4 separate regions of the Homo sapiens genome follow, and all the other regions are linked to region 2. Evidence: fine-mapped expression QTL. A gene starts in region 2. Each other region holds a variant in brackets. All regions are shown on one strand. Distances are from middle to middle.

Region 1 (6,320 bases), 110 kb after region 2:
TCAGAATTCCCTAGCGTGAACACTAAATGGTTAATAAAGTTAGTAAATTTTTCTTATGTTCTTAGTCTTACTTCCTCTGTTACTAAGTCAAGACTTCGTGATGTAAATGATATTCCCTGTTATGTTTTCCAAAAGACATCATATTCTAATTGTAACATTAATATATTTTGTAAATTTTTTTCTTTAAAAAAAAAAGAAAAACTCCTAAGGAGTCATAAAATTCTGGTAAGTCAAATGTTGCCTCAAGGCTACTGGTTGGTTACCCTTGCTAATTGCTTTCTTTCCAAATCTTATTATTAAAAGTAGGACTTTGGGGACTTGGACTAACCATGAAGATTGGCACATATGCCACATAAGATTTGGTTTTCATGAAGATGTAAAGTACATACGTCTATACTCAAAATTTGCAAGCAGCTGGCTCTATAATAATTTTTTTCCCTAAAATTAATATGCTATGCATTTTCAAATTAAACAGTTTGGCATTTTTGGAGAATTCTTATTTGCCATTATGTGCTTATTTTAGATACCAAACTACTATAAAATTATAAAGAAACCAATGGATTTATCCACCGTGAAAAAGAAGCTTCAGAAAAAACATTCCCAACACTACCAAATCCCGGATGACTTTGTGGCCGATGTCCGTTTGATCTTCAAGAACTGTGAAAGGTTTAATGAAGTATGTTAACTTCCAACCTATAGAGTCTTGATTTGTTAGTTTTTGTTTGTTTCCTTGTTTTATTTTTCTGCTGACTTTAATTTTATTAAAATTTTTTTTTCTGCTAAAGTCCTGTCAAAAGTAACATCTGATTGTATTAACAGCTCCAGTGAAGAAAATTTATTGTGTATAATTTGGAGTATATACTTAAATATAATAAATTAAGAATATTATCAAATATCCTTTTCTAAATGAGTTGAGGATTGGCATAAGTATGGAAAGTACTGTCAGTAGTTACGTATATTTTGTGGAATATGATTATAAACAGCTTACGTTTTGGGTACTATTAGGAAAGTTATCTGTACCCATGTCCTTGCATTTTATTATTGACAACATGAATGTAGAACCTTAAAATAACAAACTAATCTCTGGTGACCCATCTTGAATAGTAGCCCAGAGTATATAATACTAAGTTTTCTTATTTCAGCAGTGTGACTTTGATTAATTTTGGTTATGTTTTTTGGTTTGGGGAGTTTTTTGTTTTTTGTTTTGTTTTGTTTTGTTTTTTTTTTTTTTTTTGAGGGTAAGTTTGAGTTAGCCATGCCTTGAGAAGAAATGTATTATATACCTGTTTCAGGGAAATTGTTTTTATTAGGGATAAAATCGATTCTATTATTGTTATGGAAGAGTTTCATTGTAGGAGAAGAAAATGGAATTTAATGAGAATCCACAAAATCTTTTAAAAGATTAATACTAAAGTCTCTTTATTGCTGGTGTAATTTGGGTGCCATATGATTATTACTAAAATAAATCACATTGGATCCTGTAACGTATTCCTATAGCTGCCTCTGGAAGCATCCAGATGGCATTTTAAAATCAAAAACAAAACAAAATCCTCATAAGGTGAAAATTCTAAGTCACCTTTATAGCAGTATGGCACAGAGTATATTAGTAAAATCTCACTAGTTTGAAGTTATATTTAGTCCCAAATTCTGTCTTATTTTTCAGTGCAGTTAAATTATTTTCAAATAAATATGCTTTCATGAACTATAGTTGATAAGAAGACCCATGTTTCCTGCCTCAGTAATAAATAGTTTATGATTAACATATTGCTATACAGATAGAATTTTTATTAAGTGGTTTGTTGAAAGTTTGTCAGTTTTTTAAAGCAACGTTTCTTGTATAATATGCTTCACAAATATTTTTCTCTTGGATAGATTGATGTGTTCAGACCAATTCCTATTCAGATTGACCTTGATAATTCAAAATAAGACAATTACTGAGGTTTCACAGTAGCTTTAGTAACAGGGCTTTGTAAAGAAAATGGTTCCATGTTCTGTAGAATTTTAGAAAAGCACTTTATCTGGTTATAGCAATTTGTTCTCCCTAGTATGGCTGACTTTTCGTCGCCAATCCTATGCAGTCTCATAACTTTAGAAAGGATTATAATTTCCCTTTTTTTTTTTTGACTCTGGTATCCTTTTTAGATGATGAAAGTTGTTCAAGTTTATGCAGACACACAAGAGATTAATTTGAAGGTAAGCTTTTCAGACCATGCAAACTTGGTGAAGGAATATGCATTACCAATAGGTGAATATTCCTATCTTTTGCTTGCAGGCTGATTCAGAAGTAGCTCAGGCAGGGAAAGCAGTTGCATTGTACTTTGAAGATAAACTCACAGAGATCTACTCAGACAGGACCTTCGCACCTTTGCCAGAGTTTGAGCAGGAAGAGGATGATGGTGAGGTAACTGAGGACTCTGATGAAGACTTTATACAGCCCCGCAGAAAACGCCTAAAGTCAGATGAGAGACCAGTACATATAAAGTAAAATGACATGGATTTAAATCAATTGTTTAAAAAAAAAAAAACGAAAAAAAAAAAAAAAACACAAAAAACCCAGAAAACTTTTAAGTGTTGCTGGAATATCCTGCCTACAGTGGGCACCTCCTTGAAGAAGCTGATAGCTTTTACACAGTATTAGATTGAAATAATGGACAGAAACACATTCTTGTCAAGAAAGGGGGAGAGAAGTCTGTTTGCAAGTTTCAAAGCAAAAAGCAAAAGTGAAATGATTTGAGGATTTCTGTTCTAATGGAGATGATTCTCTGATTGTTAGAAATGGCAAATATTGATGATTGTGTGCTATTGATTGGTGCAGGATACTTGGTATACGAGTAAATACTTGAGACTCGTGTCACTTGATAAATTTTCTTTTTGGACTAGGTCGCACAGTTATTAAAACAACTTTTAACCCTCCCCCTTCACACACATACATATCAGGTTGTTTTCTAGTTAAAAACCCAAGTAGCTCAGATTCTACTTTAATGTCAGTGCAGATTTGCATTGAATCATGCCATT[A/G]TGTTTTTTCTCATTTTTATGCTGTTGGGTCTTAGTTTTTAAATTGATATAAAGAACTCAGCAATGGTTTTATTTTCTACTCATACTTAGGGTTTAGGAAACACTACCACTAGTTATCATTTAATCAACTTCAATGGTCTACTGAAACAAAAATGGTAACTTTTCATTAGTGGATTATTTAGAGTTATAGTAGTTGTTTCCAGAAAACACTTCCTCACAATTGTACTTCCCAATCAAATCATGTGATCATACAGTTATTCCCATGAAAGGCAGAATGTTTGTTTCAAAATTAATCTAGTTTTCTGTACATTTAAATTTGAGAAGGTGACAACTGGCTCTTTTCCAGTCTTCCTTCATGTCAGTTTTCTGATAGACCACTATTGGCAAACAGTATCTGTCAACTACCAAATGTGTAAAATTTTCTGTATTTCACTTTGTCTTATTTGTAAATAGTGAACTAAAACTTTTGGCAGATCAGCAACATTTGCTGAGCCTGTTTTTTAAGCTAATGTGTATTCTTACTAATGTTCCTATCAAGAATGGATTTGTAATATATGCTGTCTATTTCTAATGTTCACATTCATATTTTGAGGTTCTATCTTATTTTAATAGAGAACAGACTTCTCAAAAAATCTTCAGAAGCAGCTTATTATTGAAATATCGAAATATTGAAATAAACCCGGTGGGGTTAGATTACTCATCTGTCCACCAAGTGGGACATTTGCATGGACTGGGGGCTTAAAGGACTTAGAAGAGACCTGTAAGTAAATCCTGAAAATGAGCCAATCCCCACTTGAATGGTTACTGGAGTAAACCCACCTTTACCACCCCAATTACAGCACCCGAGGCCGATAAACCAACTTGGCTCTGGTTCATTTTTCTTTTCTTCATTTGTGATGCTCAGATTCAAAATGTGTGTTCTACACTGTTACAGGCTTCTCTTTTGTTTGATTAAAGATTTTAGTCCTACTTTTGTATGGACACATTAGAATATTCAGAGACCAAAATAGAAGAATTTGCTGTTAGATATTTTTCAGAAGTCAGCAGATTTGTGGCAAATCATTTATTTGCCTTTTTAAAAATTCATTTAAGCAGTTCAGAGAGTAGACTACTCAGAAAATTATTTCACGTAATTGTCTAAGAGGTCAATATTTTTTAATGCATATTGAATCAAATAAAGTGCTCTAAAGAAATTATTATACAAATTCCTTTGGGTTGTTTTTCTTTTCTTAACAAGGGGTGGGGGTAAACAGGAATATGATTCAGGCTTTCTGGTTGTGTATTTAAAGAGTATTGATTTTATTATTACTATTGATTTACTTTATTCCTGGCTTCCTTTTCACTTTTCTTTCAATTTTTAAAAAATAATTTAAGCCGTTGAAAATATACCAAACTGTTGAAACATTTTACTCAAATTTTAAATTCCTAAAAATGTTTTTTAATAAGAGGGAGAAAATTATTTAAAAATACTTATGCCTATGCCAATTTCCCTCTTTTTTCACAAAATCCATGATTTCAGTTTGTAAGTAGACATATATCTAAGGGCACATTTTTGGAAAGTGAGGAATAGCAGCAGTATAACTTCATTTTGTCAGGCCTTTGAGTTCTAATATTTTGTATTGCTCTTCAAATGGATCCTTTTAAAAAAATTGTAGATAATGAGTCATAAATAGATTCTGCCAACTGAGGGGAGAAACATTTTAAGTAAATATTTTTCAGTATTTGGGGCCTTAAAAAATAATTGTGTTTCCTTAAAATTACATGTTAGATAGAGTTTTTAGGTTTTTTTGGTTTTAAGATTGGTTAAAGCAATTTAAAAGCCACTTTTTTGTCAACATTTAATAGCCTCCACTTCTGTTAAGATAATGTATACTGCTGAGGAATTACTATTAATAGCTATCAACATACCACCATTAAATTAAGGTATTCACTTTAGATTTTTTATTAAAGCTTTTTTCTTGCACACTGATCGTTGTGTTTCTAAGCTGATTTTTTCAGCTCTAATATACCTATGGTTAAAAAGTATAAAAACTTAAATTGATATTTAGATATATGTTTTCCTATTAGTTTATGTTTTAAAAAGACAAAATTGTATCTGTCAGTCCCTGAAGGCAGTTTGTTTTTATACTCTCTCACATTTGTATTTGTTTTTTAAATGGCAGTATTTTAGAAGATTTGGAGAAAAGTCCACATAATAATGTTTTCTTAAAAGCTTTTAAAGTTTTTGCTGTACTTCAATTTACTTCTTCCATCAGAAAACTAAGAACAAAGTGTTGCTCAGTCTGTTCCGCTGACCTAAATTTGTGTTTTCAGCACTTGGCTCAGCCAATTCACTGAGTGAAGGAATTGCTTTATGAGGCAAAGCATGTGAAAGTTCTAAAGTATGGTTAGATTGTAGGTCGTGCTCTATATGGAAACATCAAACCATTACTACAGAGAAATGATAAGGCATTGGATCCACTATTGAAATTATTATTTTTGGATCAACAAGTTGGTACTTTCTGACTTCTGTATCTTAACATAAGGGAATTTTAGGTAATGCTAAGTCAGTTGTCTCATTTTTTGTGATAAGTTTTGGAATTTTTAGTTAATTGAAATAAATAATGCTTTTAAATAGAAGTAAAAGGTTTATAAGTGTGCAAATTGTAGATTTATCAATTACCTCAGCAGGTATCCTGCCATGTAATTATTAGTGATTAGTGTTAATAAGATAATAGATTCAGGTCTTCCAACTATGCCCTTGGATTGTGGCCTACTGTATGTTATTAAATGGTCTCTTACTATCCAAAATGGGAGTAGATGCTGTGGCCCCGTCTCCCTTGGCTTTTACGTCCCATATCCACCCCCATTCATGTACAACATGTGAAATATAAAAATCTCATTTCTTGTCAAAATCAGCACTGCTTATTTGCATACTCAGCATCGGATCAGTGAGTAGTTTTATAAAAAATCCACGCACCCAACTCCCTTAGTTAAAACAGATTCTTAATTCATACCATGAATTCTTAATTTCTGTACCATCTATGTTAATGATCTGCTGAAGGTGACTCAAGATTTTCAAGGTGTAATACAGTTTGATCATGTACCGGACCTGGATATTTAATTTTTTTTCCCTCACAGTTAATCTCCTCCTTGATAAAGCAATAACACTGCTTTGAGTCTGTTGCCTAATAGCATGTCAGAATCCTCTCCTGGATGGTGATTTTATAGGAAAGTTTGTATGCATATCACCCAGTCTATCTTTTAAAAATTAAGAAATTTAAATGTATGCTGGAAGTAATGACACTATATTGTGGCATTTTATT
Region 2 (6,320 bases):
GCCTCTACCTCTACCTGCTGCTCAGTTTGGGCCACAGCATGATTCCTCTTCTTGAAATTTTCTCTCAGTGGCATGTGTTTCTCCTGCCAGTTCTGTTTCCTTCAGGGAACTTTGGGTCTACTTTAACATCCATGTTCACCATGTGCTGGGTGCTGTTATTAACGTTTTACAAATATTGTTTGTGAGGCAACCTTGAGGTAGGTCCTACCCGTAGCAAACACCCTTTCATGACTGAGGGAACTGAGGCAACCTAAGTAAGTTTCCCTAAATCACATAGCTAGTAGGTGATGGAACCAGATTCAAACCAAGCATTTTGTCCCAGGGCATAATGAACCCCATGCTATGCAGTCTATTAGACAGGTTTGTGCATTATCGTATCTCAGCCTCATCTGTGGACTTATTTCATAGTTTCTCCTGCAAGATTTCTGGGCTCCCACAGAAAATCAAGGATGTAACTGGGTCTGTTTCAATGATCCTAAATATTTCATGAGTTATACTCCAGGCACTGCCTTCTCAGAGCACACAGTGAACTTCATGGGGGCTGTTTCCATCCTATACAAATTATATAGTTTTCAAAAACAACACTTTTATTCTAGATTTTAATAAAGGCAAATGTAGCAGGCATCAAAAGGTTAAGAAAACTCATGGAAGCAAAACTTTTGGTTGAGAAATTCAGTTCATTAGCTTATTTTTTTGAAGTGAATTTGAGAAGAAGTGTTTATGATTTATACTCCATATTTTTCACCACCTTTACAGATTCTAACCTGATCCAACCAACCGAGTTATTACCCTATTAGCCCCTTAACTGGTCTTCCTTATTCCACTGACCATTTACAGGTGATTCCTCTAGGAAGCAGCCACAGTGACTCTTTTCACAATTCTGCTTTGAGTCTTTGCTCAAAACCCATCCAAGCCTTCCTATCTGACTCAGTGGTCCTAAGGCTAGGGTATGAGTACTCCTGGGGTACTTCAGTGAAGGAAAATTTTCCAAGGGGTACATAAAAAAGTAAGGGTAGTTTTAAGGGAATTACTCCATCATATATGTGAGTGTGTAGATACATACATGTATACATATATAGTTTTTAATGCAGTAAAGACTGTGGCAATGAAAAATGGAGTTGATACAGGACCTTATCTCATTCTAGCAATGTTATATGCATTCATGCCTACTCGAAATAATTAGGGGAAGGGGGAAGACTCCCAGCCATATCATTAAAACATTCCCAATACTTTTCCATGTTTAAAAAATATAACATTTTAATATACTTTAAAAAATGGATAGTATTAAGCCACTTTAGTGTTTACTTCCCTATTAGATTAAAAATAATTTTTAAATGTCAGTATTACAGAATGTCACAAATTAAACTCTGCAACTATTTAAACTTCTGAAAAAATTTAGTCAACTTACAATGTTTGAGGAAAGAAAACAGCCTTCCAAAATTCTTTCAAAGGGCACAAAAGTTAAAAAAAAAATTGAAGACCATTTCTGTACATGACCTGGCTCCCTTAATAACTCTCTTATCTCATGTCCTACTATTCTCTCCCTTGTTCAAGCCACTCCAGCCACACTGACTCCTCCTCTAACAAGCCAAGAATCCGTTTCCCTCAGGCCCTTTGCACTTGTTATGTGTTCCTCTCCTGCTCTTCTCCAAGACAGGTTCCTTCATCTGATCAACAGGGGCCTTCTTCAATCACCTCTAACCCCTTTTACCCCACTTATTCTTTTCTTCACAGCACTTACCACTCCCTGGCATGTATCTATTCTCAATCTTTTTCTCTATTAGATTGTAAACCCCTTGAATGCAGGGAGCTCCTCTGTTTTGTAATCCCAGTGTATCTCTAAAACACTATGACAATAAAGAGGTCAGGAAACATTTTTGAATAAATTTTAAAAAGTTTTCAGGAGGCTGGGCGCAGTGGCTCATGCCTGTAATGCTAGCATTTCCAGCGGCTGAGGCGGGCCAATCGCTCGGGCCCAGGAGTTTCAGCCTGGGCAACATGGTGAGACCCCAGCCTCTTCGAGGCAAAGGGAAAAAAAAGATCAGCTAAGTCATGGTGGCGTGCATCTACGGTCCCAGGTAATTGCGAGGAGCACGGCTTGAGCCTGGGAAGTCGAGGCTGCAATGAAATGTGATGACGCCACTGCACTCCAGCCAGGGCGACAGAACGAGGAGGTCTCAAAAAAAAAAAAAGTTTTCACGTGGTTTAAGGACTTACAGCACCTTTCTTGGGAACACTAACAGGAGACCAAAGCATTTCATGATCTTAACACTAAAACAGTTGTTGCACTACATAAAATCCTCCAAATACCTTTTTTTTTTTTTCAAATAAAAAGGCAACTTTCTGAAAGCTTTTCTTTTTTTTTTGAGACGGAGTTTCGCTCTGTCGCCCAGGCTGGAGTGTAGTGGCGCTATCTCGGCTCACTGCAGCCTCCGCCTCCTGCCGGGTTCAAGCCATTCTCCTGCCTCAGCCTCCTGAGTAGCTCGGATTACAGGCGCACGCCATTACACCCGGCTAATTTTTATATTTTTAGTAGAGACGGGGTTTCACCATATTGGCCAGGCTGCCCACGAACTCCTGACCTGACCTCAAGTGATCTGCCCGCCTCGGCCTCCCAAAGTGCTGGGATTACAGGCGTGAGCCACTGCGCTTGGCCTGAAAGCTTCTACTACCATTGTTGTAAGGGCATTTGTCACCCAGCTCAACCCAGGACACTTAAAGTGGGACCTCAGAAGGACGCAGTATTGGTTATATCCGTGGCTCTCCAAACTGACATACATAAGAATCAGCTGAAGGGACTTTTCCCCCTCCGTCGGCTCTCTCCCTCACTTCCTGATTCAGGTCTGGGGACTGGCCCTGGCATCTCTGCTTTGAAAAACTCCTCCGTTGATTCTGATACGTAGCAACTCCTGAGAATCACCTTAAGATGCCAAAAATAGCTGTTAAAGAGTTTCTTCCTCACTCGGTCTTTTCAGCCTATTTCTGATAGATCCTCAGTTCAAAAACAAAAAGCAAAAAAAAAACAAAAAAAAAAACCAAAACCAAACAAACAATAAGCCCCGCTTTAGTGCTCCACGGCCACCCAAAGGAACGCGGCTGGTCTACGCACAGCAGAGACCCAGGAGGTCCCGGCGATCGAGCGGCGCGGCAGGTGAAACTTCCGCGGAGACGCCCGGGACACGCTCGCAGGGACCGGAACCGTCCCGGCTACCACCCTTCCGTATGCACCACCGCTGTGTCGGAGTTCATAACCAACCCCAGCCAAAGGCTACCCAGCGTCAACGGCCTCTGGCTTTAAAAAAAAAATCTCCCTTCGGGTTAAAGAGCCGCGGCACTGACGCAAGGAACTGGCTTCGAGGGTCCGGGACCGCTCCGCGCCCGCGAACCGAGTTCCCGCCTCCCTCGGGAGGACGTCCGTGCGTACGTGCGCGTGCCGCAACCGCCCTCCTTCAAACGCGCGACGCGAGGGCGGGGGCGCCGCGTGCGCGCGCGCTCTCGTTGGTTCGCTCTCTCGCTAGCTCTCGGCTGCCGCTCTTGCTGCGGCTGCGGCTGGGGCTGGGGGCGGCGGCGGCGGCGACGCGGGCGGCGGGCGGCGCGGGGCGGTCCGGCGGGTTCAAAGAGGAAAACATGGCGGAAAACAAAGGCGGCGGCGAGGCTGAGAGCGGCGGCGGGGGCAGCGGCAGCGCGCCGGTAACTGCCGGGGCCGCCGGGCCCGCCGCGCAGGAGGCGGAGCCGCCTCTCACCGCGGTGCTGGTGGAGGAGGAGGAGGAGGAAGGCGGCAGGGCCGGCGCTGAGGGCGGCGCGGCCGGGCCCGACGACGGGGGGGTGGCCGCGGCCTCCTCGGGCTCGGCCCAGGCTGCTTCATCTCCTGCGGCCTCAGTGGGCACTGGAGTTGCCGGGGGCGCAGTATCGACGCCGGCTCCAGCTCCAGCCTCGGCTCCCGCTCCGGGTCCCTCGGCAGGGCCGCCTCCTGGACCGCCAGCCTCGCTCCTGGACACCTGCGCCGTGTGTCAGCAGAGCTTGCAGAGCCGGCGTGAGGCGGAGCCCAAGCTGCTGCCCTGTCTTCACTCCTTCTGCCTGCGCTGCCTGCCCGAGCCGGAGCGCCAGCTCAGCGTGCCCATCCCGGGGGGCAGCAACGGCGACATCCAGCAAGGTGAGCCGGAGGCCCTGCCTGGCATCTGGGCCGCAAGGGATTTGCGCAACCCTAGAGGAGCTGGGGACGGAGGTGCTGGGGCCTGGGGCTGCTCGGACGGGCGCCATCCCGAGGGGTCTCTAAGGTGAAAGACTCGCCCCTGGGACACTTTCCAGAGAAGCTGGACCGCAAGAGATAAGGGGAGCATGAAGGGAGGGGTGCCGGCTGCGAGAGGCTGGGGGAGGGGACACTGGCTCCGAGGGAGGGTTTGTGATGTGCGGAACCCGGCCGAGCGCTGGTTCTGGAGCTGGCAGACCCGTACAGTGAGAGAAGGGGGATTTGGGAAACACGTTGTGAGGAAGCGTTTTGGCTGAAAGGGCCCGGGCCAGCGAGGTGTTGAGGGAGTAGGTAAGAGGTAAGGGCAGTGAAGATGGATTGCTTTGGAGGGAGGGGACTTGGCGTGTTCACAGATAGGAGAGAGGAGGACTATGGATTAAATGGAGGTGGAGAGAATATGTTGGAGAGCAAGGGGTCCAGAGAAGGCGCCTGGAAGAAAATTGTAAGATGACATGGGGAAAGAGAAACTCGGAAAGTGGACTGCATGGTTAGGGAAAATCCTAAGGTTTGGGGATGAAGGAGAAATGAACTTTGAAGGAAATTGAGAGTTAGGGAAAGCTGGGCATGAATTTGTTTTAGCTAATTGGCCGTTAATGAGCCCCTAGTGTTGGGGCACTGTGCTAGGATTGAATAAAGTACTCAATGAAGACTTCATTCACAGTCTAACAGGAGAAACATATAACTTGCAGCAGTGGAGGTGAGTCCTCAGTACAATGGTTGTGGCACAATAGAGGAAAGGTCAGGGAAATTTCACAGGAAAGGAAATCCATGAACAGGTTTCTTGAAGAATGAGTACCTCACTGGGTTGGAGGGTATTCAGGGCACAGGACACCCTTCTACATCCCTGGAACTAAAGACTGTGTAGGGTGATTGGTGGAAATTAGATTGGATTGATGGGCTGAAAAGATAAAGGTTTCACAGTCTCTTAAACTCTTGGGATCCAGGTGTAAGGACTTCAGAATATTTTGGGATTTTTCTTTTTTCTGGCAAGGTCTGTTATGTGAGACTTTTATCAGGGTCTGAGTTAACTCTATCAAACACGTTAATGTTTCTACATTGAAACACGTGAATGTCACGCTAATGGGATAGACGATAAATAACCTCCCAGCATTCACAGTGGGTTCTGTTGCAAACCAATGAAAAAAATTAAAATTTCAAAGCTTTTGAATTTCGGGACTGTAGGTAAGCGATTGTGGAGCTGCACTAAAGGGCTTGGAATTCATCCTGTAGAGTGTATCCTCGACATTGTGGACTGAAGGATGTTCCTGGAGGGCTTTCATATCAAGAGGATAAAAGGATCAGATTTCTGATCCAGAAAGATCACTTAGGGCACTTGAGGGATGAGGGAAGGCAAGGCTGGAGACAAGGAGACCAGTTAGGAGAATCCTGGCGGTTATCTAGGAAAGAAATCAACATTTGGAATGGGTAGTAAAGGAATGATATATCAGGTATTACAGAATGAAGCATTTTGGTTTGGGGGAACGGTAGGGTTTGGAAATCTACTTTGCCATCTCCTACTTACGACTTGGGCAGATGACCTTTTCTTAGCTTCAGTTTTCTCATTTGTGAAATGGGAAAAAAGTATATAACCTCATAGGGTTATTGAGAGAATGAAGTAAGATAAAATGTGTAAAGTGATTAGTACGTGGTAGTTACTAATGAAATGGTAGCTAGTATATTAATAGTAGTAACTAATAGTGGCTATGGGAATGGAGGGATGGGGGGAGTGTATTGAGATTGGTGTGAGGGAGACAAACGTAGAATTCCACATTTTTTGTTTGGTGGATGGCAATGCTATTAATACATATTCAGACACTGAAGCAGGGCTGGGGTGAGGGTGAGGGCTGGGGTGTAGGGAGGATAAAATGTTTTCAGATTGGGATGTTTTGGGTTTCTAGCATTATTGGTACATGTAGGTAAGAATGTTAAGAGTAAGGCTTTGGTTGTTGGAGAAGCTACTAATTGTTAGTAGGTGTTCAGAGAATAACTGCTGGTGGTCTGTGCACCCATGACCATAGTAAGACACATAGGATTCAGTGTTCTTGTGGGAACCTGGGTTAGGTAAGAGATT
Region 3 (6,320 bases), 37 kb before region 2:
GTTTTTTCTATATAGTCACATCTCTTTTTACTAATTTTCACGTTAACTAAGAGGTTATTTGCATTTATGTAAGGTACATAGGGTAGACAAACTCATAGAGATAGAAAATGGAATGAGAGTTGCCAGGGGCTGGGGAAATGGGAAATGAGGAGTTGTTTAACAGGTAGAGAAGAGTTTTAATTAGAGACGATGAAAGTTCTTTGGATGGATGGTGCTGATGGTTGCACAACAATATGAATGTATTTAATGCCAGTGAACTGTACACCTAAAAATGTAGAAAATGGTAAATTTTACGTTACGTATATTTTACCATAATTTTTAAAAACCACAAAATGGGGAAAACATTTAAAATGAGACAATCTAATAATTTAAAAGGTTTTTATATATTACATTTTTTAAAAAAGATCCTATTCACCCTTTTTGAACAAATTCTAGTGTCTACATTGCAAAGGTTATCCTCTGACCAACTTAAAACTTAGGGTTTTAAGAGGGATGGTACGCCTGAAAAATCAGCCTTCTTTTCTCAAGTTCACATTCAGCAATGGGCTGGAGTTATCACCAATTACTTGCACTTAGTGAGCAGGCAGACACATAGCTACCATTTCCAGTGCTAGAGGGGAACCAAGGCTTTAAAAAAAACTCTAAGAGAATGGCAAGAGAGCTTCTTGAAAGATCTGATGGTATCTCAACCCTCATCAGGTAAATTCAGCAAAAGTCATCTGACCTCAGGGGGGAACCTGCAGAGCAGGGAAGCTGACCTCTCTATCTGAGTATGCGGCTGTGTCCTCTATGTTTTCAAGCTGTTAAAATTCTTGTGTGTTTACCTACATTAAAGAAACTTGTATTGTTGGCTTGGCTCTGTTGGTGTCTTTTAGTTAATCATACCATCATTGCTTTTTTTTTTTTTTTTTTAAGAAATGGTCTCGCTCTGTCGCCCAGGCTGGAGTGCAGTGGGACAATCTTGGCTCATTGCAACTTCTACTTCCCAGCTCAAGCGATCCTCCAGCCTCAGCCTCCCAAGTAGCTGAGACTACAGGTGCAAGCCACCACATCCGGCTCATTTTTTCAGTTTTTGTAGAGACCGGGTTTTGCCATGTTGCCCAGGCTGTTCTCCAACTCCTGAGCTCAAAGTGATTGGCCAGCCTTGGCCTTTCAAAGTGCTAGGATTACAGGTGAGCCACCATGCCCAGGCCATCATTACTTTTTTACATCTATACAGACTGGTATCAGAAGTGAAATTGGCTCAAAGTCCTAGCTCCTAAAGTAATTTGGGGGAATTTTTATGAAATGCAAGCAGAGATAAATGCTGCAAGATTTCTAGGATGGTTCTCAGATCATCCTTAGAGCAGGAACCCCAAAATGTTGTGACTTTTTATAGTAGAGAGGTATCAATTCACTGTCCACTCACATCTTGACTTCAAGTGGTTTGGCACAGTAAATTGAAAACATATAAACATTTGATGAGGCCAAAAACATAATCTATGGGTGCTTCTATCAGTTTTTGCTAGAGTAGCCCAGGTTCCTGGGGTTTTCTTCAGGTTCCCAAGGTTTTCTAAACAAGTTAACTAAGCTTATAAGAGAAGGAAATTATTAGCTGGGAGTGGTGGCACCTGCCTGTAATCCCAGTTACTTGGGAGACTGAGGCAGGAGAATTGCTTGAGTCCAGGAGGTGGAGGTTGCAGTGAGCCAAGATCACGCCATTGCACTCCTGGGCAACAGAGCAAGCCTGGGCAACAGAGCAAGACTCCATCTCAAAAAAAAAAAAAGAACGAAATTTAAACCAGTAGACACTGATATCTGGGATAAAAATACCTGAGTTAAAAAACTAGTGATTTGAAGAAAGACTGAGGACTCATTCAAGCCACAACTAACACTAGATTGAGCAACTTCTCAAGCAGAAACTGGGTAACCGCTGAGGCTGTGGAATTGAGAGGGGATGAGAGTGGTGCCAAAGTACGCTGACTCTCACTGGCCCCACCTTTCCTGGCAGTACCGAGAAAACCAAGGAGGAAGGGAGGTGAGCAAGTCATAGCTAAGGGGAAAATATTAAGTTAGAACAGCAATAGGACATTTTGGGGACACACTTGGGTATTACAGATTTACATAATATTGCATCAATTTTTTATTTCATGGGTAAGATAAAGGTATTGTGGTCTTCAAAGATACGTGCTGGAGTGTTTTAAGGATGAAGCGTTATGATGTTTAGGACTTACTTTCAATGGTTTCAGCAAGAAAAAAAGACATGCATAAATAGGAAGATAGATAATAGATGATAAGCATATATATATATATAACACAAATATAGCACAATACTAGCAACTGGATAAATCCAAGTGAAAAGTATGTGGGTGTTTATTATACTATCCTTTCATCTTTTCTGTAGGTTTAAAATTGTTCAAAATTAAAGTTTTTTTAAAATAATTTAAACTGCTGTGAATAGCTTTGTTTCAATATGTGTGAACTACTTTTGCTACTCTCAGAGACAAGGCTGAAATACATTATGACCTTGGAGCTCTGTCGTTTGTGAAAACTAACTGAAATTAAAAAAAAAAAAAAAATATATATATATATATATATATATATAGTAGAGGCTGGATGCAGTGGCTCATGCCTATAATCCCAGCACTTTGGGAGGCCAAGGCAGCACAATCACTTGAGCTCAGGAGTTCAAGAACAGCCTGACTAACATGGTGAAACCCCATCTCTACTAAAAATACAAAAATTAGCCAGGCCTGCTGGTGCTCACCTGTAGTCCCAGCTACTCAGGAGGCTGAGGCAGGAGAATCACTTGAACCTAGGA[A/G]GTGGAAGTTGCAGTGAGCTGAGATTGCGCCATCGCACAATTTGCATCGCACAATTTGCACAATCGCCATCGCACAAGTTGCAGTGAGCTGAGATTGCGCCAGCCTGGCCGACAAAGCGAGACTCTGTCTCCAAAAATAAAAAATAAAAAAATGGTGGAAAACTTCAAGCTAAAGAAAGTGAAGTGAATGTTTACATTTATTTCTACTACCTCCCAAAATCACACTACAACATTTAGTAAAAGTTTTTTGTTCTTTGTTTTGTTTCAAGGCATAAATCCACAAAGACAAAGAAAATGAGAGATGAGACAACAGCAAGAAATTGGAGAAGATGGAATGCAAATGGAAGAGGGGTAACTGATTCAACAGATGCAAAGAAGCTAAACCTTAAACCAACAGTGAGAAAGCAAAATATGAAAGTTAAAAAGCAGTTTTGTTTATCCACACAACCTTCTGGACCCAGGATTTGGTAGCACCAGTGACCTCTGGGAGTGGGGGTGACTGTGAGGTAAAAAGTGAAATTGGGCCAGGTGCGGTGGCTCACGCCTGTAATCCTAGCACTTTGGGAGGCCAACATAGGCTGATCATTTGAGGTCAGGAGTTCGAGACCAACCTGGCCAACATGGCAAAGCCCTGTCTCTACTAAAAATACAAAAATTAGCGTGCTTCTGTAGTCCCAGCTACTCTGGAGGTTGAGGCAGGAGAATTCAAGCAATTCTCCTGCCTCAACTCCCAAGTAGCAAAGGCGGAGGCTGCAGTGAGCCGAGATCGTGCCACTGCATTCCAGCCTGAGTGACAGAGTGAGACTCTGTCTCAAAATAAATAAATAAATAAATAAATAAATAAATAAATAAATAAATAAAATAAACACAGATATAATAATATTATTTAAATGTACAGTCTCAATGTCCCCCAGATGTCTTTATGGCTCTTCGAATTTAACTTTAAGAAGGAGTTAGACCCTGTTCTACCTTAACTTTAAAGAAGCAGTGAAAGGCTCAAATCCCCATCTTCAATACAAGCTGGCTGGGCAGACAGAAGGCAGAAAGCATGTTTTCCAAAAAGGGGGAAAATAGAGAATTGCTTGACTGGGAACACCTAGTACTGTCAAGGGCAAGGATTCAATCTTGAAAGAAGAAAGATTAAGTGAGAGCTTATATACTTAGGAAGAATCCCTCAGCCCTCTTTCCCCACTCTGCTAGCAGCCTCCTTCTGGAAGGAGATTATAAGGGTCTTTGCTGGCAAAATCTGGTCTGGCCGAGAGAAAAGATCTAAAGATCTAAAGACATCATTGAAATGAACCAGCTAGATTACTCTACAGTGAAGGGCAGAGTTGACAGGCCCCATCTACATGCACAGGGTTTTCTAGAAAATTTTTTGTGCTCCCTCTGTAAAAGTTGAATAAAGAATATGTATTAGATGGCCAGGAACAGTGTCTCATTCCTGTAATCCCAGCACTTTGGGAGGCCTAGGTGGGAGGCCAGGAGTTTGAGACCAGCCTAGGCAAAATAGCAAGACCTTGTCTCTCAAAATAAATAAATAATAATATGTATTATATATAGTATTGTATCAATGTTAAATTATCAGAATGTGAAATTATATTGTGTTTGCATCAATTCCTAGCCAACTAGGAAGTCAGGGGGAATAGTAGCTATAAAAGACCACTCTTACTTCTGACACCAACTGCAAGTCTGGGAGTTCCCCAAACCATCCTCAGGTTGATAATCCTCTACAAGGACTCACAGAACTCACTGAAAACTACTATATTCATGGTAATAGTTTATACAGGAAAAACATACAGATTAAATTTAGCTAAGGGAAGAAGCGCATAGGGCCAAGTCAGGGACGTACCAAATGTGGAGCTTCCCTCGTCCTCTCTTCATAGAGTCAGAACACATTACTCCGCGAATGAATAAGAGAATGAACACCCACGTACTTTTCACCGAGATTCATCCAATTGCTAGTATTGTGCTACGTTTGCAATGTCTCTTTCTCTATATATATATATATTTATATATATTACCTATCACCTACCTATTATTTATCTATCTTCCTATCTATGCATGTCTTTTTTTTTTCTTGCTGAAACTGTCTTCCAATGTTGATGTGTACAATATGCCCAAGTATTCCTAACCAGGGAAGCTCACCCAGGCCTAAGTGTTGAGAGTTTTACTGGGACTTCATTACATAGGCATGATTGACTAATTGTCCATGTGGTTGATCTCAAACTCCAGGTCAACTGATACTACATCAACCAGAGCCCCCACCCTTCCGATGAGAACATGGCCTAGAGAAAAAATAAAAATATAAGGAAAAAAAGAAAAAAAACCCTAAAAACCAAAGCGCCTTCACCCTAAATAACATGTGAGTCTTTCTGGTTTGGCCAGCCCCAGCCCTAAATCACATTGTTAGAATATCCAGTCTGACACAAGGTGCCCTGACAAAGACTGTCCCGTCAGGCATAACATTCCAAGTACCCAGAGATTACATCCATGAAGCCTAGGGCAAAGGCCAGAACTTCTACTTGGGCAAAGCCAAATTCTTTACTACATAGTGTTTATATAAGGTAACATCCTTATTATTGGAAGTGTGCTAAAGTTTTTCAGGTGAAGCACCATATTGTCTACAGCTAACTTCTAAATGCTTGAGCAAAAATGTGTGAGTGTGTGTTTATGCATGCACATGGGTTGACAGAGAGAGAAAGAAAACGTGTCAAACTGTGAACAATTCAAGGATTTAGGTCAAGGGTATATGGATATTTATTGTACCATTACAACTTTTCTGTAGGTTTTTTATTTTTTCAAATGAATATTGGGGAGGGATTTTAGTAGGCTTTTCAGTTTAATGGAGGGTACCTTTATCAGAATAAGAGATAGAAAGGTCTCACCTTTAATCTGATCTCTGCTCTGAAGGCTTTATTCAAATGACAGGTTTTACTGGCATTATACCTTTGATCTGAATTTGCCCTGAGGCACGTTAAAGCACTAAGGAGTTTTAATAATAGGTATGAAACCACCTCCTTAATGTGATCTTTGCCTGGAGAATTTTAATCAAATAATAGGTTTTATAGGGTATTTTTTCACTCAAAACTTTTATAAACTCTCATCTTTTTCTATTTAGGATCTAGAAGCTCAAATGCTGATGAGGATATGGAGCAAAAGAAATTCTCATTCATTGATGGAAGGAATGCAAAATGGTACAGCCACTGTGGAAGACAGTTTCTTACAAAACTAAACCTACTCTTATAATAGCATCCAGCAATTGTACTCCTTGGTATTTACCTAAATAAGTTGAAAACTTACATCCTTACAGAAACCTGCATACAGATGTTTATAGCAGCTTTAATTATGATTGACAGAACTTTAAAGCAACCAAGCTGTACTTCAACAGGTGAATGGATAAATTAACTCTGATATATCCAAAAAATGGAACATTATTCCATGCTAAAGAGAAATGAGTTACCATGTTCTAAAAAGACATGGAGGAAACTTAAATATCTATTACTAAGTGAAAAAAACAACC
Region 4 (6,320 bases), 260 kb before region 2:
AAGCGATTCTCCTGCCTCAGCCTCCCAAGTCGCTGGGATTACAAGTGCCCACCACCATGCACAGCTAATTTTTGTGTTTTTAGTAGATGGGGTTTCTCCATGTTGGCCAGGCTGGTCTCGAACTTATGACTTCAGGTGATCCGCCCGCCTTGGCCTCCCAAAGTGCTGGGATTATAGGCGTGAGCCACTGTGCCTGGCCTGTAACCTCTAATTCTTGTTTGCTGGCTGTCCTAGAGATCCTGAGAATTACTTTTAATAAAATCATTTTTTTGCTGTTATTAAAACTAACCTGAATTGCCTAAAACCAAGAACTCTGCTTGATAAAATAAGCATAGTTTTAGGAACAGCCATGCAGATATAAATTTTATCAACACTTTATACATAATTTGGGACTTATATTTAAATGTAATATTTGATGCTTATAAAAGGGTAAATGGGGAATGCAAATAAATTATCAAGCATAATAACTCATCACCTAACTTAAGAATAACATTATGAGTGCTTGTATTTTATCTATTTGAGCTCTTCTCCTATCTTTGCCGACCCCCCCGCTCTCTTTTTAATAGATTTGTTCGAATGTAGAAAGACCTAAAATACATATGTATCCCTAAAGTGACTTATTTTATAGTTTTCTTTCTTTTTGAACTTCAAAAAAATTGTATCATACTCTATGTAGTCTAAGGATTTGGTTTTTTTCACTCAACATGTCTCTAGAATTCACAAGTTTTATTGTTTTATAGCTGTCATTTTCATTGATGTATATTTCATTGTTGGGTTATACAACATATTGTTAAGGAATACATACATATATAATAAATTATACATTTTTTAAAAAAATCCTTGCTAATATTTTACTTACTAATTTTTAATTCTCCCTTCCTGTGTCTCATTTATATTAAACACATTTAACTATAAGATGACGTATTTCACATTCTGCAGTTATTTCACTGATAATATCTCATGGCAACTTTCAGAGTGAATTAAGGGGTATTATCTGCTAATATAGGAAAAAGCAGATAATGCTTTTTGTTTTGTCACTCCTGTAATGCTGAAGAGGAGGCAGAACCTTCAGAGTTTCAATTAGCTACAACTTCACTCAAAATTTCATCTAGGCTCGTATAAATATGTGTGGAACTAATTGATGAATGTTTGTATGTTACTGATTGTAACATTCATTTCTATTTCTTATTTTAACATCTTTGATATTGGGATATGTCTTACACAGGTACAGGTTCCGATGTGGTTGATTGTAAGCATATACAAAATTGGTTTGCACTTATGGTGGATGACTGGACAAAGGCAATCTGAATATTTCAGTCAAACTCAGGACCATGTGAAAAAAGAACATGGGTTTTGGCCATTTTCTGTTCTTTCCATTGACACCTTTTTATCAAGAGTGTGCCACCACACAAATTTGGAGTATGGCTGGCTGTATTAGTTTTCTACTGCTATATAACAAATTACCACAAATAACAGTTTAGAGCAACATCCACGTATTATCTCACAGTTCTGTAGGTCTGAAGTCCATGCAGGGCTCAAATGGGTTCTCCTCTCTTGCACTCACAAGGCTAAAATCAAGGTGTCAGCTGAAGCCAGCATCCCGTATGAGGCTCCAGTCTCTCTCCCACGTTCACGTAATTATTGACAAAATCCATTTCAGTACAGCTCTACAACTAGAAGACTCTCTTCAAGGGCAACAGGAAATATCTCTGACTTCTTGTCTCCCACCTCTAGACTCCTTTTTTTTTTTTTTTTTTGAGACGGAGTTTCGCTCCCGTTGTCCTGTTGCCCAGGCTGGAGTGCAATGGCGTGATCTCAGTTCACTGCAACCTCCACCTCCCGGGTTCAAGCAATTCTCCTGCCTTAGCCTCCCGAGTAGCTGGGATTACAGGCATGTGCCACCATGCCCGGCAAATAGACTCCCTTTTAAGAATACACCTAAGTCAGGTCCAACCAGAATATCTCCCTCTTGATTAACCCAACTGATTAGAGATCTTAATTATATCTGCAGTAATCCCTTTGCCATAAAAGAGATATAAGTGATACAGCTTCTCGTATCCACGTTTCACCTATGCTTAAGATGGGATGATACAAGACACGTACGACACCAGTGGGAATCTTGGTGGCCAGCTTGGAATTCTACCTACTCCAGTGGCTTTTAGCAGCTCAGAATAAAATCCTGGAAACCATGAAGCACTCTTTGAGGAAATGCTACATTATCAGTGTTCTTGGTGGGCTCAAAATAATTCTATGTGGGAAAACCTGGATATCTATGAACCAGAAAGATTCAGCAAGATGCACCAATGAATAGTGGGCTAAAATTTAAGCAAAAACAGGATATTTATATACGTTTGCGTTAGTTCCTAGAGTTGCCATTACAAATGAACTCAAACTGGGTGGCTTAAAACAAATTTATTCTTTCGTAGTCCTGGAGACTAGAAGTCTCAGGGAGAATGTGTTCCATGCCCCTCTCCTAGCTTCTGGGGTTGCTGGCAATTCCTGTTCCCTGATTTCTAGATGTATCACTTCAATCTCTTGTCTTCATATGGCATTCTCCCTGCATGTCTCTAGTCAGTGTATAAAATTCTCTCTTCTAAGGACGCTACTCATTGGATTCAGGCCCACTCTAATCCAGTATGACTTTATCTTAACTTGATTACCTCCACAAAGGCCCTATTTCTAAATAAGGTCATATTCTAAGGTTCTGGGTGGGAATGAATTTAGGGGGGACACTATTCAATTCAGTACATTACCAAAGCATTGCCCTGCCCCCAAATACTCACTAATTACAAAGGGAAAAGTAGTAATTTTACAATGGAGAATCCTGGCAGACATCAACTGATTAAGGTAAACATCATTAATAATACACTTCAATGGCTGGACAAGGTGGCTCACACCTGTAATCCCAGCACTTCGGGAGGCCGAGGTGGGTGGATCACCTGAGGTCAGGAGTTCAAGACCAGCCTGGTCAACATGGTGAAACCCCGTCTCTACTAAAAATGGAAAAATTAGCCGGGCGTGGTGGTGGGCGCCTATAATCCCAGCTACTTGGGAAGCTGAGGTGGGAAGATTGCTTGAACCCAGGAGGTGGATGCTGCAGTGAGTCGAGATCATGCCACTGTACTCCAACCTGAGCGACAAGCGTGACCTCATCTCAATAATAATAATTGTAATAATACACTTCAACATTATATACCCCTGATATTGAGCAATGATAGGCACATAACCTCTGTAGTGTTCCAAATAATGTATAACCTCAATCTAATCAAGAGAAAACATCAGACAAAACCAAATTGAGGGAAATCTGCAAAATAGCTGACTGATACTGTTTTAAAGTATATATATAGA[G/T]AGAGAGAGAGAGTCAGTGTCTCACTCTGTTGCCCAGGCTCACTGCAACCTCTACCTCCTGAGTTCACTCCGCTCAATGCAACCTCTACCTCCTGAGTTCAAGCAATTCTAGAGCCTCAGCCTCCAGAGTAGCTGAGATTGCAGGGGCCTGCCACCACGCCCAGCTAATTTTTGTATTTTTACTAGAGACGGGGTTTCACCATGTTGGCCAGGCTGGTCTCAAACTCCTGACATCAAGTGATCCGCCCGCCTCGGCCTCCCAAAGTGCTGGGATTACAGCCATGATCCGTCACACCCAGCCTGTTTCAGTGTTAAAGTTGTAAAAGACAAAGACTAAAGAACTGTCATAGAAGGGAGACAAAGGAGACATAAAAACTAAATGCAGTGTGGGATCCTAGATTTGATCCTGGAGGAGAAAATGGACATTGTTGGAATAACTGGTGCAGCCCAAATTAATTTTGTATTTCAAGTCATATTATCATGTCAAAGTTGATTTCCTAGTTTTGAAAATTGTTCTATAGTTATGTAAGGTTAAAATAGGAGAAGCAAGTACAGAGTTTATGGAAACTTTCTGTACTATTTTTCTACCTCTTCTGTAAGTGTAAAAATCTAAAAAAAAAAAGTTCATCCCCCTGATTTCTAATGAGGCTGGGTATAATTTCAAGTATTTGCCTATACAGGTTTTAAAAAAAATATGGACCTTCAAGTATTTTCTCCATTTTCCTTTTCTTTCCTTTTGGCTTTTTCTTATTAATGTATTATATATTCATGATACCAATACATTTTTTATATAATGCAAATATACTAGTCTGTTGATTTTTTAAACTTTTTTATGTTGCCTCATGATGAATGGAATTTTTAAAATATGGTCAAATTTATTACTGAAAAGAAAGAGATTCAGAAGAGTTAGACTTTGTGAAGAAGTTTTAGGAATACCTTAACAAATTTATTTTGCCATTTTTTTTTTTTTTTACTTCATATACACACAAAAGGGAGACATGATTTAAATCTATGTCTAGGCAGGGCACAGGTGGCTCATTCCTGTAATCCCAGTACTTTGGAAGGCTGAGGCAGGAGGACTGCTTGAGCCCAAGAGTTCAAGACCAGCCTGGGCATCGCAAAACCCCATTTCTACAAAAAAATACAAAAATTAGCCAGGCGTGGTGGTGCATGCCTATAGTCCCAGCTACTCAGGTGGCTGAGGCAGGAGGATTGCTTGAGCCTGGGAGATGGAGGCTGCAGTGAGCTGAGATCATGCCACTGCAATCCACCCTGGACAACAGACTGAGACCCTGTCTCCAAAAAAAAAAAAAGTTTAAAATAGCCCTTTCAATAAATATAAAAATTCTAAGTAGTGAAAGTTTTATTTCATAATTGTATTAGTCAGTTCTCGTGCTGCTATAAGGACATACCCGAGACTGGGTAATTTATAAAGAAAAGAAGTTTAATTGACTTTCAGTTCTGAAAGGCTGGGGAGGCCTCAGGAAACTTACAATCATTGCAGAAGGGGAAACAAACACGTCCTTCACATGGTAGCAAGGAGAATGAGTGCTGACAAAAGGGGGAAAAGCCCCTTATAAAACCATCAGATAGGCTGGGAGTGGTGGCTCATGCCTGTAATCTCAGCACTTTGGGAGGACGAGGTGGGTGGATCACTTGAGGGCAGGAGTTCAAAACCAGCCTGATCAACATGGTGAAAGCCCATCTCTAGTAAAAAAAAAAAAAAAAAAAAAAAAAAAAAAAAAAAAAAACTCAAAATTAGCTGGGCGTGGTGGTACACACCTGTAATCCCAGCTATTTGGGAGGCTGAGGCAGGAGAATTGCTTGAACCCAGGAGGCCGAAGTTGCAGTGAGCTGAGATCGTGCCATTGCACTCCAGCCTGGGCAACAAGAGCAGAACTCCGTCTCAAAAATAAATAAATAAATAAATACAAATAAAACCATTAGATATTGTGAGAACTCACTCACTATCATGAGAACAGTGGCACAGGGGTAACAGCCCCCATGATTCAATTACCTCCCATCAGGTTCCTCCCACGACATGTGGACATTATGGGAACTACAATTCCAAATGAGATTTGGGTGAGGACACAGCCAAACCACATCACTCCGCCTATGACCCCTCCCGAATCTCATATCCTCATATTTCAAAACATGATCTTGCCTTTCCAACAGTCCTCCAAAGTCTTAGCTCATTCCAGCATTAACCCAAAAGTCCAAGTCCAAAGTCTCATCTGAGACAAGGCAAGACCCTTCCCTTATGAGCCTATAAAATCAAAAGCAAGTTAGTTACTTCCTAGATACAATGGCGGTACAGGCACTGGGTAAATATACCCTTTCCAAATGGGAGAAATTGGCCAAAACGAAGGGGCAATAGTCCCCATGCAAGCCTAAAATCCATTACACCAATCATCAAACCTTAAAGTTCCAAAATGATTTCCTTCGTCTGACTTGATGTCTCATATCTAGGTCACATTGATGCAAGAGGTGGGCTCCCACAACCTTGGGCAGCTCCACCCCTGTGGCTTTGCAGGGTACAGCCCCCCTCCCAGCTGCTTTCACAGCTGGCGTTAGGTGTCTGCAGCTTATCCAGGCATACGGTGCAAGCTGTCAGTGGATCTACCATTCTGGGGTTTGGAGGATGATGGCCCTCTTCTCACAGCTCCATTAGGCAGTGTCCAGTGGGGACTCTGTGTGGGGGCTCCAACCCCACATTTCCCTTCTTCACTCCCCTAGCAGAGGTTCCCCATGAGGGCTCCACCTCTACAGCCAACTAATGCCTGGACATCAAGGCATTTCCGTACATCCTCTGAAATCAAGGCGGAGGTCCCCAAACCTCAATCCTTGACTTCTGCACACTCACAGGCCCAACACCATGTGTCAGCTGCCAAGGCTTGGGGCTTGCACCCTCTGAAATAATGGCCTGAGCTGTACCTTGGCCCCTTTTAGCCACAGCTGGAGTTGAAGTAGCT

The links. PIP is the estimated chance that this variant, and not a neighbour inherited with it, causes the effect.
Region 1: its variant is fine-mapped to the expression of TRIM33 in whole blood (INTERVAL, PIP above 0.99).
Region 3: its variant is fine-mapped to the expression of TRIM33 in whole blood (TOPMed, PIP above 0.99).
Region 4: its variant is fine-mapped to the expression of TRIM33 in whole blood (INTERVAL, PIP above 0.99).

The regions. Positions count from the first base shown.
Region 1 is chr1:114,393,813-114,400,132 of GRCh38, reverse strand. TRIM33 (tripartite motif containing 33) reads left to right here. Exons shown (of 20, transcript NM_015906.4): 18 at 524-676; 19 at 2,143-2,193; 20 at 2,273-6,320. The coding sequence ends at 2,485. Among named protein-coding and RNA genes, the nearest start is that of TRIM33, 110 kb to the left of the region's middle. The variant A/G (reference allele first, on the strand shown) is at 3,016.
Region 2 is chr1:114,508,384-114,514,703 of GRCh38, reverse strand. TRIM33 (tripartite motif containing 33) reads left to right here and starts at 3,501. Exons shown (of 20, transcript NM_015906.4): 1 at 3,501-4,153. The coding sequence starts at 3,628. It overlaps LOC124904348 (a long non-coding RNA gene), which reads right to left and starts at 3,366. Exons shown (of 2, transcript XR_007066452.1): 1 at 2,779-3,366. RefSeq lists enhancers at 1,542-2,304, 3,165-3,334 and silencers at 3,525-3,634, 3,665-3,964.
Region 3 is chr1:114,544,947-114,551,266 of GRCh38, reverse strand. No RefSeq gene overlaps it. Among named protein-coding and RNA genes, the nearest start is that of BCAS2, 34 kb to the left of the region's middle. The variant A/G (reference allele first, on the strand shown) is at 2,801.
Region 4 is chr1:114,763,996-114,770,315 of GRCh38, reverse strand. SIKE1 (suppressor of IKBKE 1) reads left to right here. Exons shown (of 5, transcript NM_025073.3): 5 at 1-837. Among named protein-coding and RNA genes, the nearest start is that of CSDE1, 9.2 kb to the right of the region's middle. The variant G/T (reference allele first, on the strand shown) is at 3,349.